Linked DNA regions of Homo sapiens: region 2 is linked to region 1. The links come from fine-mapping of genetic effects on plasma protein levels. A gene starts in region 1. The other region holds a variant in brackets. All regions are shown on one strand. Distances are from middle to middle. Region 1 holds the start of SPINK5 (serine peptidase inhibitor Kazal type 5). Region 2 overlaps SPINK5 (serine peptidase inhibitor Kazal type 5).

Evidence for each region. PIP is the chance, under the fine-mapping model, that this variant and not a neighbour inherited with it causes the effect. Protein levels are from the aptamer-based SomaScan assay of Sun 2018.
Region 2: its variant is fine-mapped to the plasma level of the SPINK5 protein (Sun 2018, PIP 0.95).

The regions. Positions count from the first base shown.
Region 1 is chr5:148,056,766-148,065,174 of GRCh38, forward strand. It overlaps SPINK5 (serine peptidase inhibitor Kazal type 5), which reads left to right and starts at 7,215. Exons shown (of 33, transcript NM_006846.4): 1 at 7,215-7,334. The coding sequence starts at 7,280.
Region 2 is chr5:148,118,768-148,123,618 of GRCh38, forward strand. SPINK5 (serine peptidase inhibitor Kazal type 5) reads left to right here. Exons shown (of 33, transcript NM_006846.4): 24 at 219-291; 25 at 1,242-1,369; 26 at 1,528-1,624. Among named protein-coding and RNA genes, the nearest start is that of SPINK14, 47 kb to the right of the region's middle. The variant G/A (reference allele first, on the strand shown) is at 920.

The DNA.
Region 1 (8,409 bases):
TGGAAGAGACTTGCCTTGTCTCAGAGTGTGGACTTTTAAGTTAATGCTGAAATGAGTTGAGACTTTGAGGCACTGTTGGGAAGGCATGATCAGGTTTGAAATGTGAAGATATGAGATTTGGGAGGAGCCAGGGGTAGAATGATGTAGTTTGGCTCTGTGTTCCCACACAAATCTCATCTTGTAGCTCCCATAATTCTCATGTGTTGTGGGAGAGACCTAGTGGGAGATGACTGAATCATGGAGGTGGGTCTTTTCTGTGCTGTTCTCATGATAATGAATGAGTCTCTTGAGATCTGATTGTTTTAAAAATGGGAGTTTCTCTGCACAATCTCTCTTTGACTGCTACAAAGATGTGACTTGCTCCTCCTTGCCTTCCACCATGATTGTGAGGCCTCCCCAGCCACGTGGAACTATGAATCCAATACACCTCTTTCTTTTGTAAATTTCCCAGTGTCGGGTATGTCTTTATCAGCAGCATGAAAATGAACTAATACAGCACACCTCAGCATTAAAAAAGCATCCTGCCTCTGGTTTTAGCAGAATTGAGCTTGGTTTCTACTGGAGTTTCTTTTCTCTATTGGAATAGCCCAGATAAAGTGAGTCTTGCCACTTTTAATAAATATTCAGCTCTGTTTCTCTTTAACACTATTCTACAGGATCATAAGTTTAATGTACTGGTTACTTAAAGAGAAAGGAGCCTACATAAGACTGTATTTTCAACCGTATAACTGTGTCTATACATTTTTACACAGTTTGCATGTGACTGGGTCAATACATACGGTGAGTGTATTGTTTGCTATGGCTGCCGCCACAAAATACCACAGACTGGGTGACTTAAACAACATAAATTTATTATATTTTCACATTTCTGGAGGCTAGAATTTCAAGATCAAAGTGACAGCAAGTTTGGTTTCCTCTGAAGCTTCCTTCTTGGTTTGTAATGGGCAAGTTCCCACTGTGTCCTCATGTGGTTTTTCCTCTGTGTGTGCATCACTAGTGTCTCTTTTGTGTGTCCAAATTTCCTCTTCTAGTAAGGACATCAATCAGTTTGGTCTAAGGCCTAACCTTATAACCTCATTTTAACTTAACCACCACTTTTACTTATCTCCAAATATAGGCACACCCTGAAGTAGTGGGGTTTAAGGCTTCAACATATAAATTTTGGGCAGACAGAGTTTAGCTCTTAACATTGAGTACCTGAGACACATTAGTTACAGTTGTAGGCAATGTGGTTACTACGGTGTGTAGTGTTTAAGAAGCTGGGCTCTGGAGTTTGAATGCCTTTATTACATTGACTGTGATCATTTGCAAGATCACTGCTTACAAGCTGTATGACCTTGGAAAAGTTATAGAATCTCACCAAACCTCAGTTGCTTTACCTGTAAGAATAAAATGATACTTAATCTTTATATTTATTGTTGTACCTAAGTGCATGAAATGTGTTAGCAAATTTTATTTCTTTACAATTTTTTTTTTTTTTGAGTTGGAGTCTTTCTCTGTCACCCAGGCTGGAGTGCAGTGGCGTGATCTTGGCTCACTGCAAGCTCCGCCTCCTGGGTTCATGCCATTCTCCTGCCTCAGCCTCCTGAGTAGCTGGGACTACAGGTGCCCGCCACCACGCCTGGCTAATTTTATTATTGTTAGTAGAGACGGGTTTTTCTTTTAGTAGAGACGGGGTTTCACCATGTTAGGCAGGATGGTCTCGATCTCCTGACCTCGTGATCTGCCTGCCTCGGCCTCCCAAAGTGCTGGGATTACAGGAGTGAGCCACGGTGCCCGGCCTACAAATTATTTTGTAAAGATAATCTTTTTCTAACTTTGCTATAAATCTAACAGTTTCATTCTTCCCTACTGTAAACACACACACACACACACACACATATTACACATATAAAATTTGCAATGCTTTTTTGCTAAAATTAGGTAGACTTTTTTTTTTTTTTTTGAGAAAGAGTCTTGCTCTGTCGCCCAGGCGGGAGTGCAGTGAAGTGATCTCAGCTGACTGCAAGCTCCGCCTCCCAGGTTCACGCCATTCTCCTGCCTCAGCCTCCCGTGTAGCTGGGGCTAAAGACACCCGCCACCGTGCCTGGCTAATTTTTTTGTATTTTTAGTAGAGACGGGGTTTCACCGTGTTAGCCAGGGTGGTCTCAATCTCCTGACCTCGTGATCCGCCCATCTCGGCCTCCCAAAGTGCTGGGATTACAGGCGTGAGCCACCACATCCGGCCGGTAGACTCTTAGGTACTTCAGGATTAATTTGTTATGATTTATTGAAAGACTGTAGCTCCTCAAACCTCTGTTTTCTATTGTCAGGATAAATCCTAGGAGACTTTAAAATGCACTAAATTTTTGAGTGATAAACAGTGTGGGGCCATGGGTCAGGGGTTCAAGTAATATCAGCTATAGGGAGAAGCTGATTGTTGTTTCTAAAATAAAATATAACCCATATGAAAATATTAATACAATTAAAAATTAGACATTGAAATTCCTGTCTTCTTAATCCTAATCTAATAAAAGCAGTAATTATGTCTGTAAATAGCAGGGTCTATATACTCAGTAAACAAACAATGCCCATCCCATTCTATTATTAGATAAAATGAGAGGCTTATCTCTAGTTTCTTAGTCTTTCCAGACAAACAGAAAGGAATTCCTACAGAGAGAGTGAAGTTAGTTGGTAATGCAACATTACCAGATAAGAAGATGAGTAAAGGCTGTTTTCCAGTTAGTGTCTTTTACAAAGGAGAATATAGGCCGGGCGCGGTGGCTCATGCCTGTAATCCCAGCAGTTTGGAAGGCCAAGGCGGGTGGATCACGAGTTCAGGAGATACGAGACCATCCTGGCTAACACGGTGAAACCCTGTCTCTCCTAAAAATACAAAAAAAAAAAAAAAAAAAAAAAAATTAGCCAGGCACGGTGGTGGGCGCCTGTAGTCCCAGCTATTCCGGGAGGCTGAGGCAGGAGAATGGCATGAACGCTGGAGGCGGAGCTTGCAGTAAGCCGAAATTGCACCACTACACTCCAGCCTGGGGGACAGAGTGAGATTCCGCCTCAAAACAAACAAACAAACAGGAGAATATAGACATGTTAGATTGATGGGGGAAAATATTAGAATTATAGAAAAGAAAATAAAAAAATAAAAAAGAAATTATTTCATCTTTTAAGATATATTAGAATATATAAATTTTACTCATGGTCACAACATACCTCTTTTTGCCCAAGTGATTGTGTATGTGTGTCTGTGTGTGTGTGCATGCATAGGGCTGTATCTAGTTTAAAGCACTGTAACGTCTGGATTCTCTTTTTTTTTTTGAGATGGAGTCTCGCTGTCTCCCAGGCTGGAGTGAAGTGGCGCGATCTCGGCTCACTGCAAGCTCCGCCTCCCGGGTTCACGCCATTCTCCTGCCTCAGCCTCCGGAGTAGCTGGGACTACAGGCGCCCTCTGCCACGCCCGGCTAATTTTTATGTTTTCGGATTTTTAGTGGAGACGGGGTTTCACCATGTTAGCCAGGATGGTCTCGATCTGGATTCTCTTTGAACGGTATAAAAGTCTGTGAGATGGCCGTGGGGAAACTCAGAGAAATTAAAGGTATAAAATGTAAGAAAGTGTCAAGGCTGAGATGACCATCCCAGCTAGTTCCTACTGCAGGTTTCTTTTATGACACCAATTTTGGCTGGTAAAGAAAAGATAATAACACCTAATTGGCTGCCTCACAACACTGCATAAACAAATCAAAAGAGCTAATGAATGGCAGGTTGTTTTGAAAGCTGTGGAAGGTGATCTAATCATAAAAGACTATAGTTATTTATTAACTATTATCGTCATCAAGGCTCCCTCTGTGTAGAAAAACAGAAGACTTTAGGAATGATATGGTAACTTTATATTTTGGAAATAACCTTTGTTTGTAGTAACATTACTGATCTACAACAATCTTTATAATTTTCTCATTTCCTCCCCCTGTATCAGTATCCTTCAGATTCTGCCAACCTCATAAATGCGTAAGGTTGTAAAATTCATAGTTTTTATTATCTAAGCCCACTCATTTCTAATGAGAGGAAAAAAGTTTCTACATGTTTGATGAATAATTGAAAGAGTTAAAAACAAGGATGATATTTTGAGTTAGAAGAATACCTTGATAACCTAACTCTGACCCAAACCTGAGTTCTCCAAACCTTCAATCCCATTCATTTAAATGTAATATTCATGGTGATTTTCAGGAATGAGGAGTAATTAACAGAGCATGTGATGAATCACCTCTGGCTTTACAACATTCCTAAAATGAAATGGAGAAGAAGCCCTAATGAAATGAGCCAGCTGATGAGTACTTCCAATTTTGGGGGTGCTCACTGAATCTTCTTTTTACTACTTTCTCCATTTGGAAAAGATATCAGTTTCAAACTTTTTATTCATCATTTCAGAAAAGGCTGGCATCTCTGAGGAGCTCTTTTCCAGTAAGAAGGAAACCAATGTCTTCAATGTTTCCTCATAGTAGAGATTCCTAAGACAGGCAATCATCTTTTGGTTCTTCTGTTCCACCCTAGCACCACTTCCACTCCTGGGAATATTCTCCATTTGGGCTAGGCTAGGGGTCACTAGAGCATAATACACAGTCATTGATTCCATTTTAAGGCATCAAACTCTTTTACCGTCAATAACAGAATATATGGTTGGGACACATTTCGTATGGTCTGACAGGGCAGATGAAAGATAAAAAATTAGTATTGATATGTGAATATTTAGAAGAGGCTTTTAGAGAAAGAGACAAGAAATCAATGCTGATTGAAACAGAGCAATGGTTTTCGTTAAGTTTTAACAGGTGATGTTTCGATTTGTTTAGGCATTATGGTTTAAAATACAATTAAAAGGGAAAAAGAGAACATATATCGTTATAGTTTAATTTCACCTCAAATTGTGTTGGGGTAGTTTTTCTATGCTGAGTAAATATAAATCTATTGGTGAAATCCACAGTCAACAGATGTTTACTTTTCTTGGTATCTTAGAAATTATCTAGTACAACCACGTTATTATAATTATGTAAAAATGCAAGACCAGCTATCATTAACTATCAAGCTTATCACATAAACTTGATAATTGTTCTAAGCACCTCTCTCTCTCACACACACACAAACACACACGCATTATATATATGATTTATCTCTAAACCTCTTAGCACTAGTACAATGTACGTGTTATTATTTTTATTTTACATATTAGGAAACTGAGGCTTAGAGAAAATAAGTGACTTGTCCAAGGCAACATGGCTAACAATTCAAGATTTGGACCCATTTCTAGCTTGCTTCAAAGCTGGGTTCATTTCTATCCCTACATAGTTGAAAAGACTACATAGAATAGAAACAGATTTCTGAAACCCTGTCTCATTCTCTTTCCATTAAGCTATGATGGACTTTGATTTTCTAACCTGTAACAATAATGGAATTTGAACTTGCTTTCCGTGGTCACTAATTTTACTATTCCATTGGAAAGGAGCCAAGCTACAACAATAGTGCAGACCTTGAAACCAATGATTTTATATATATATATATATGTGTGTGTATATATATGTATGTGTGTGTGTGTGTGTGTGTGTGTGTGTGTGTGTATATCTTTTTTTTTTTTGATGGAGTTTTGCTCTGTCGCTGAGGCTGGAGTGCAGTGGCGCCATCTCAACTCACACACCCTCCGCCTCCCGGGTTCAAGCAATTCCCCTGCCTCAGCCTCCAGAGTAGCTGGGACTACAGGTGCGTACCACCAAGCCCATCTAATTTTTGTATTTTAATAGAGATGGGGTTTCACCATCTTGGCCAGGATGGTCTCGATCTCCTGACCTCATGATCCGCCAGCCTTGGCCTCCCAAAGTGCTGGGATTACAGGCGTGATACACTGTGCCTGGCCCAGTGATTATATTTTTATAGGAAATAAATTATTTCATGAGAGAAAAAAGAAAGGACGTATTATCTCACTGTGATAAATCTCATAATATTGGCATACTCCCTAAGTTGGGCAACTTTGATCAGTTTTCTGGAACCATCATAAAAAGGCCTTTAATTGGATAAAGTCTCGAACTTTTCTTCTGTGGATGTGAATATCTTGAGAAGTACTGGAATGAAACAATTTGGCTCTGGTTTCAGTCATCTTCACATGTTTCTTCAGGTGCTTTCTTAAGCTATTAGGGCAAAATAAGCTGGTAGAAAAAAGGTGTTACTTGTAGGATGAAAGAAGCAACTAAAGAGAAGAAACTTTCTCTAGAAAAATGTTACATTTACACATTTATAATTGTTAACAACTTTTTTCTTCTTTTCTTTTTGGGAGACTAAATAATGGGATGATACAGGAAGAAATATGATTTAGAGAAAACTGATTGAGCCAAATTTTTCAAACGGTAATATGGGTAATCATAGGCTATGGAAAGTTAAACTGAGTCTCCAATGTTTATGATTATGATGTTTGGCTAGGATATAAAATAAGGCTTCAGAATATAAAATATCCTGCAGATTGAGAAGTTTTAAAAGTAGTTACATACAAGTTTTATTTTTCCAACGTTCCTGCCTTTTCTAATGTCTAAGGATGAAGCAGTGTACAGAGAGGAAAGAATGTTATATGTGTGGTCTGCTTGCAAGTGCTGGATGCCTCCTCTGCCTGCTCCAACTAAACTGTCTGCTTATGAGAAAGTCATTGCTCCTCTGAGTTCCTGCCTCCCTATATATTCAACATTAGAATTTTGCCAGGTTATCTTTTAGGGTCGTTCAACTCTAACATATATATGAGTCTGTGACACTGAACTCAGACACTTCAGAACAGGAACCCTGGATTTCTCTGGATGTGGAAATCTTTAAATCTATACCTGACTGGTAGGACAACCAATCTGTCTTCCTTTCCTCTCCTCTCCCACTTATGAAGGGAGTCCAGTCAGAAACATGTTTGTCTACGAGGTAGTATATCTGGTATTTCTGAGGAATTCGGTTATTATATAGGATTATAGAATATTCAACTTTGAGTAGGGTCTGTGGACTCCATCAATTGCGTTCTGGGGGAGGTACCATGAAAGAACATTCCTACTTTAGAAATAGATATTCTCTGTTCAAACCTGACACCCTGACAGGATCCTAAAGGATGGAAGCTAAAGTGGTGTGGTATATAAGTCCCATGACCTTGAACAACTGGTTTTATGTGGGTGTCACCAGTGCTTTATAAAAGTAAACTGCATCGCCCCGAGTTCAGTCATACTGCACCAGCTGAGCAATGCATGGAGTGGACCTGTAGGCGACTTGCATCGTCTTCAACATGAAGATAGCCACAGTGTCAGTGCTTCTGCCCTTGGCTCTTTGCCTCATACAAGGTGAGCAATTTGTGTGTAATCTAAGCCTCTTGCCACACATCTCAAAGCCCTGGGGAAGGGACTTTTCTCCCCCTACTCCTGCCAAAAAATGTTTACGTATGCATGTATAATCCTGAAATGTCTTGCCAGACACAGAGTTCTGAAGATTTATATATGTGGCTTTATAATTATGTTGTTATCTTTAGAAATGGCAAGTAGTTTGAGATAATCTGAATTTTCTAACCATGAGAAATTCTTCCATTAATTCTTTATTAATTCAGAAAACTGAATAGATTCTTCTTCATCTTCCTCTTGCTAAATGTATCAATTCATAATGCATATTCTTATATATGTAATAGACATTTAAAACTTAATTGTAAATAATATATGTATTTTAATGTTATAGGTATAAATGAAATATTTTTTAAAATTCAATCATCTGTTCTTATTTTAAAGCAGTGGTATCTTCTAGCTTATTTTAGTCTTGTGTTTTCAAATGCTAAATGGGTTGAAAGCATTTCTCCCAAAGAGTGAGGGACTTTTGTGGGAGCTGGAAGGTAGATTTTTATATTTGCTATTTAACCCTAAGAGAACACAAATTGCCTAGACTTACGTTGCTCTGAAACATTAAAATTTTTAAAAAGAGAAACTCATAGATAGTCTGAAATCATATACAAATAATGCCCATTTTCCTAAAATAGGTGTGTAGGTACAAAAGAGCCTATGTTAATGAGAGAGTATAATAGCCTGTGACCTTAATCTTACCTTCTGTCAGATCTCTAACTTTTGCAGCTGTAATAAGGAGGTAGAGCTGCCAGAATTCAGAAAATTAAATTTTATGTATATATCCTATAAATGTAATGCTATATTATAGTTTCAACTATAATATAGTTTCAAAATTATAATTGGTATAGTATTTTGTGTGTATGTTATATTGTAATTTTAAAAGGGAGGCTGGCATTTATTACTCCGAAAGGACCTTTTGAAGATAAGCTATTTTGATGGGGTTAGAATTCACATGAGTATTATTTTCCAAAGTAATTGTAACTTTCTGAGTGATTAGACCTTTGTGAGTATATATACTAATCTCCTGGTC
Region 2 (4,851 bases), 60 kb after region 1:
TTTCTATTACAATTCTGTGAACTCTAAGTGCTATCATGATAGACCCTTGTTCTTTATTGTGCCAGAATCCTAGGAAGACTTTGTCACGGCCATTTGGAATCATTGACCAGCACAGTTGAAGAAAGCTGACTTCTTGTCATTTGCACGGGACACACTTAGTGCATAATCCAGGGTCAATATTTGTTAACAAGATGAATATTCACTTTTTTCTCCTCCAGGGAAAGAGAAGCAGAGAGAAAAAATGAGTATTCTCGCTCCAGATCAAATGGGACTGGATCAGAATCAGGGAAGGTGAGTTATTTTTTGGGTTTTGGCAAGAATCGTCTTTCTGTGAGTCAGCAGTTGGCGATCAAAACTATAGAAGAAGGTGTCAACATGATCAAGCTAGAGCTTGCCCTTAGAAGGTCAGGAGTTACCAAGTTATCAGTGACTCTCACTGATAACTTGTTCAGTGAAGAAACCTAATGCCAAGTGGACATCTTTAAGTCTGACACTTTACAAGGCATTTTTATAAATTACAGTTTATTTAATTATTTCAACAGCCTGGTCAAATTTGGCCTTTTAACCTTATTTCGTAGATAGGGAAAATGAGGTTTTGCAAGTATACTGGGATTTATTTTTGTTTTTGCATTATTTTGCTGCTAGTGTAAGTTACTATAAGCAGATGCGTAAAATAACACACATTTATTATCTTATATTTCTGGATTCCATAAGTTTTAAATGGTCTGATTGTGATAAAACCAAGATGTTGGTAATGCCGCATTCCTTTGTGGAGGCTCTAGGTGAGGATCTGTTTCTTTGCTTTCTCTAACTTCTAGAAGCTACCTGTATTCCTTGGCTTGTGGCCACCCTTAAGCCAGTGATGGCCAGTCAAGTCCTTCTTATGCTTTATCATTCTCACACTGACTGTCCTGCCGCT[G/A]CCTCTCTCTTTAATGAGTAAGAACCTTTGTGATTACATGGGCCCCACTTGGATAATCCAGGGTAACTTCCCCATTTTAAATTCAACTGATTAGCAATCTTAATTCCATATTCAACCATAATTCCTCCTTGCCACGTAAAGCAACATATTTGGAGGTTCCAGGAATTAGAACATAGACGTCTCTCTCTGTGGGACATTATTTTGCCTATCACAGCAAGGTTACATGGCTGCCTGACTCTTGGAAAGAAATCCTCTGATTCTCAAATCCAATCAAATATTATGTAAAAACAGCACTTCCAATATAATCTTCCCATCTTTTCAGGATACATGTGATGAGTTTAGAAGCCAAATGAAAAATGGAAAACTCATCTGCACTCGAGAAAGTGACCCTGTCCGGGGTCCAGATGGCAAGACACATGGCAATAAGTGTACTATGTGTAAGGAAAAACTGTGAGTATGTTTCAAAATGAGCTTTTGACTGTGAGTCTTAAAGTACAATAATCATTTCTTACCAGTTTGGGAAAATGACAATTGTTTTAGAAGCAGATCTGGTAATTAATGAGGCGTTTGTTCACTTTGATTGAAATGTTTCATTGTTTTCCCCCCAGGGAAAGGGAAGCAGCTGAAAAAAAAAAGAAAGAGGATGAAGACAGGAGCAATACAGGAGAAAGGAGCAATACAGGAGAAAGGAGCAATGACAAAGAGGTAATAGATGTTAGACACGCTAATACCTGAATTCAGTTAGTTCATTGTATGGTATATTTATTCAACAAATATTTGTGAAATGCTGACTCTGTCCCAATCATTGGTGATATAACGGTAAACAATGAAGTCATGGCCAGATCTTGAAAATAAATAGCATGCTCTTCAGTTCCCCAGGAGTGACTCTGATGCAATTGTAGAACCAGTGACAACTGTCAAATTATTGTAGTTAGCCAGTGAATTTCATTTTTGAATTTTTTCTTTCCTTTGAGACAGGGTCTTGCTGTTGCTCAGGATGGTCTCGAACTCCTGAGCTCAAGCAATTTGCCGGAGCTCAAGTCTCAGCCTCCCAAAGTGCTGGGATTACATGAGCCATCGCACTCTGCTGTTTCTGAATTTTTTAAACAAATAAATATCAAGCAATCAGATGCCAAAAATTACAAAGAAAATCAGTATCAAAAATTTGGAGTTTGAGGCCAGGCACGGTGGCTCAGGCCTATAATCCCAGCACTTTGAGAAGCTGAGGCGGGCAGATCACGAGGTCAGGAAATCGAGACCATCCTGGCTAGCACGGTGAAACCCCGTCTCTACTAAAAGTACAAAAAAATTAGCCGGGCACGATGGCGGGCGCCTATAGTCCCAGCTACTTAGGAGGCTGAGGCAGGAGAATGGCGTGAACCTGGGAGGCGAGCTTGCAGTGAGCTGAGATAGCGCCACTGCACACCAGCCTGGGCGACAGAGCAAGACTCTGTCTCAAAAAAAAAAAAAAAAAAAAAAAAGGAAAAGAAAAAGAAGAAAAGTTGGAGTTTGAGATAATAAATTCTTGATCTGGCATTTCATTGCCACCTAGTGTTCAGTTTTGGTCCTTATAAATAGTATTCAACACTACAACACCAACACGTAGAATATTACACAGCACAATCTTTTAATGCACCGACGGACTCCAATTAGAAAAGATAAATAGCGAAATTTCCCTGGGAAGATTTTTCCTATTAGTAGGGCAACTTTTCATTAAGCCTGTAGTGGCTAAAGAAAATGAAACCTTATTAGTAATTATCATTATTTAAAAATATTTTGGGAATATCTGTTGTGTGTTACGGTAGATGAAATGGCTTTGAGAAAATAACCTTATTGCACAACTTCACATGATCTCTAAAGGACATCTATTTAAAATCTTGGTAAATTTTTAATTTTATGATCCTTATTTAAAAAATTTTGAACAGAAAAATGCTATATATATTTATATATAGAAAATACTGAGTAAAAAAAAAATAAAGAAAATATGGAGGCAGGGTGTGGTAACTCACTCTTTTAATCCCAGTGTTTTGGGAGACCAGAGCAAGAGAATTGCTTGAGCCCAGGAGTTCAAAACCAGCCTGGGCAACATAGTGAGACCCTGTCTCTACAAAATAATAATAATTAAAAAAAAAATAGCCAGGCATGATGGTGCACACCTGTAACTCTAGCTACTTGGGAGGTTAAGGTGAGAGGATCACTTGAGCCCATGAATTCAAGGCAGCAGTGAGCTATGATAGCATTATTGCACTCCAGCCTGGGCAACAGAGTAAGAACTTGTCTTAAAAAAAAAATAAAAATATTGAGATTGTGTGTGAGTGTGTGTGTGTGTGTGTGTGTGTCAAATAGAGAACTACCGTTTTATCTACACATGCAACGTTAAATAAGGTTTACCAATAATTATATTTAAACCTCCCCAAAATCTATTCAGTGGTGATATTGTTCCAATTTTTTAGAATTCAGGAAAACTTAAGAGAAGTGAACTACACATAATTAATGAATAGAAGAGCCAAAGACTGAATTGGAGGGTTGCAATACAGTCAGAGGAGTGCTATTATAAAAATATGTGGTATTGTGAGCACCTGGAAAAGAAAATACTTCCAGTAATTTGTGAAAATGGTGGTTGTGAGACATTTAATATGTTGATAGGTATTTAATTCCAGAGAATTTTTTAAAATGCTGCAATTAAAAGTAAGGCCTGGAATTGTTTGTTTACGGACATCACAATTTAAAGAAAGAAGGGTAAGTACAATCTAGGTTACTGTGTTATTTTTTAAGGTAATGTTTCCATATCACCACTTTGGCTCTTTGGGCTTACAGGAAGTTCCAGAGACTTCTGTAGCTCTCTGAAGATTTTAGTACATTCTAGATCCTATCTGTAGACTCGGTTCTATTGGCTTCTTTTTATGATCATTATGTTTCAATGAACACAAAAGGCAGCTCCATATACTTATCCACACATAGGAGTTTTATTCTCTGACTTGTAAAAGCAAATAAGTAAAAAGGTATAACCTGGTGGTTAGCAGGTTTCTGATCACAAATTCAACACTGACTTTATTTAATAGCTCTGAGATTTATTTTTCTCATCTGTAGAATGGGGATGATGCGTATTTATCTTATAAGATTTTTACAACCACTAAAGGAAATCTATTAAACCACACGATAAAGCACCTCGCACAATAATTTTTTTTTTTTTTTTTTTGGTAAATTGTGGTTGAGAAATGAAGCTGAAAGTTTACGTGTTTTTATGTTTTGCCAGAAGAGTGTCGTTTAGTTCATTCCAGGGCTTTTGAAGTAGACTTATGTGTGGAATACTGAGTGCACTCATAGGGAGACAGGTTTGGGGCTCTGCCTCATAGAAAATGGTATTAAAATGAGATGGGACAGGGCACTGGGGGCTCATGCCTGTAATCTCAGTGCTTTGGGAGGCCAATGCGAGAGGATCACTTGAGGCCAAGAGTTTAAGATCAGCCCAGGCAACACAGAGAGACTCCCGTCTCTACAAAAAATTTTAAAATATTAGCCAGGCATGGTGGCACATGCCTGTAGTTCTAGCTACTTAGCAGACTGAGGTGGGAGTGTTGCTTGAGCCCAGGAGTTGGAGGCTGCAATGAGCTATGATTGCACCACTGCACTCCAGGCTGGACAACAGAACAAGATTATATATATATAACAAGATTATATTATATACATAACAAGATTATATATATATATAGATAGATATAATATATTATATATATAGATATATATTATCTATCTATCTATATATATAATCTTGTTATATATATGTAATCTTGTTCTGTTGTCCAGCCTGGAGTGCAGTGGTGCAATATATGTGTATATATATATATATATATATATATATATAATCTTGCTTGCAATATATATATATATAGTTTTTAAAGGAATGGGCTGCTTTAGTGAAATTCCATTAG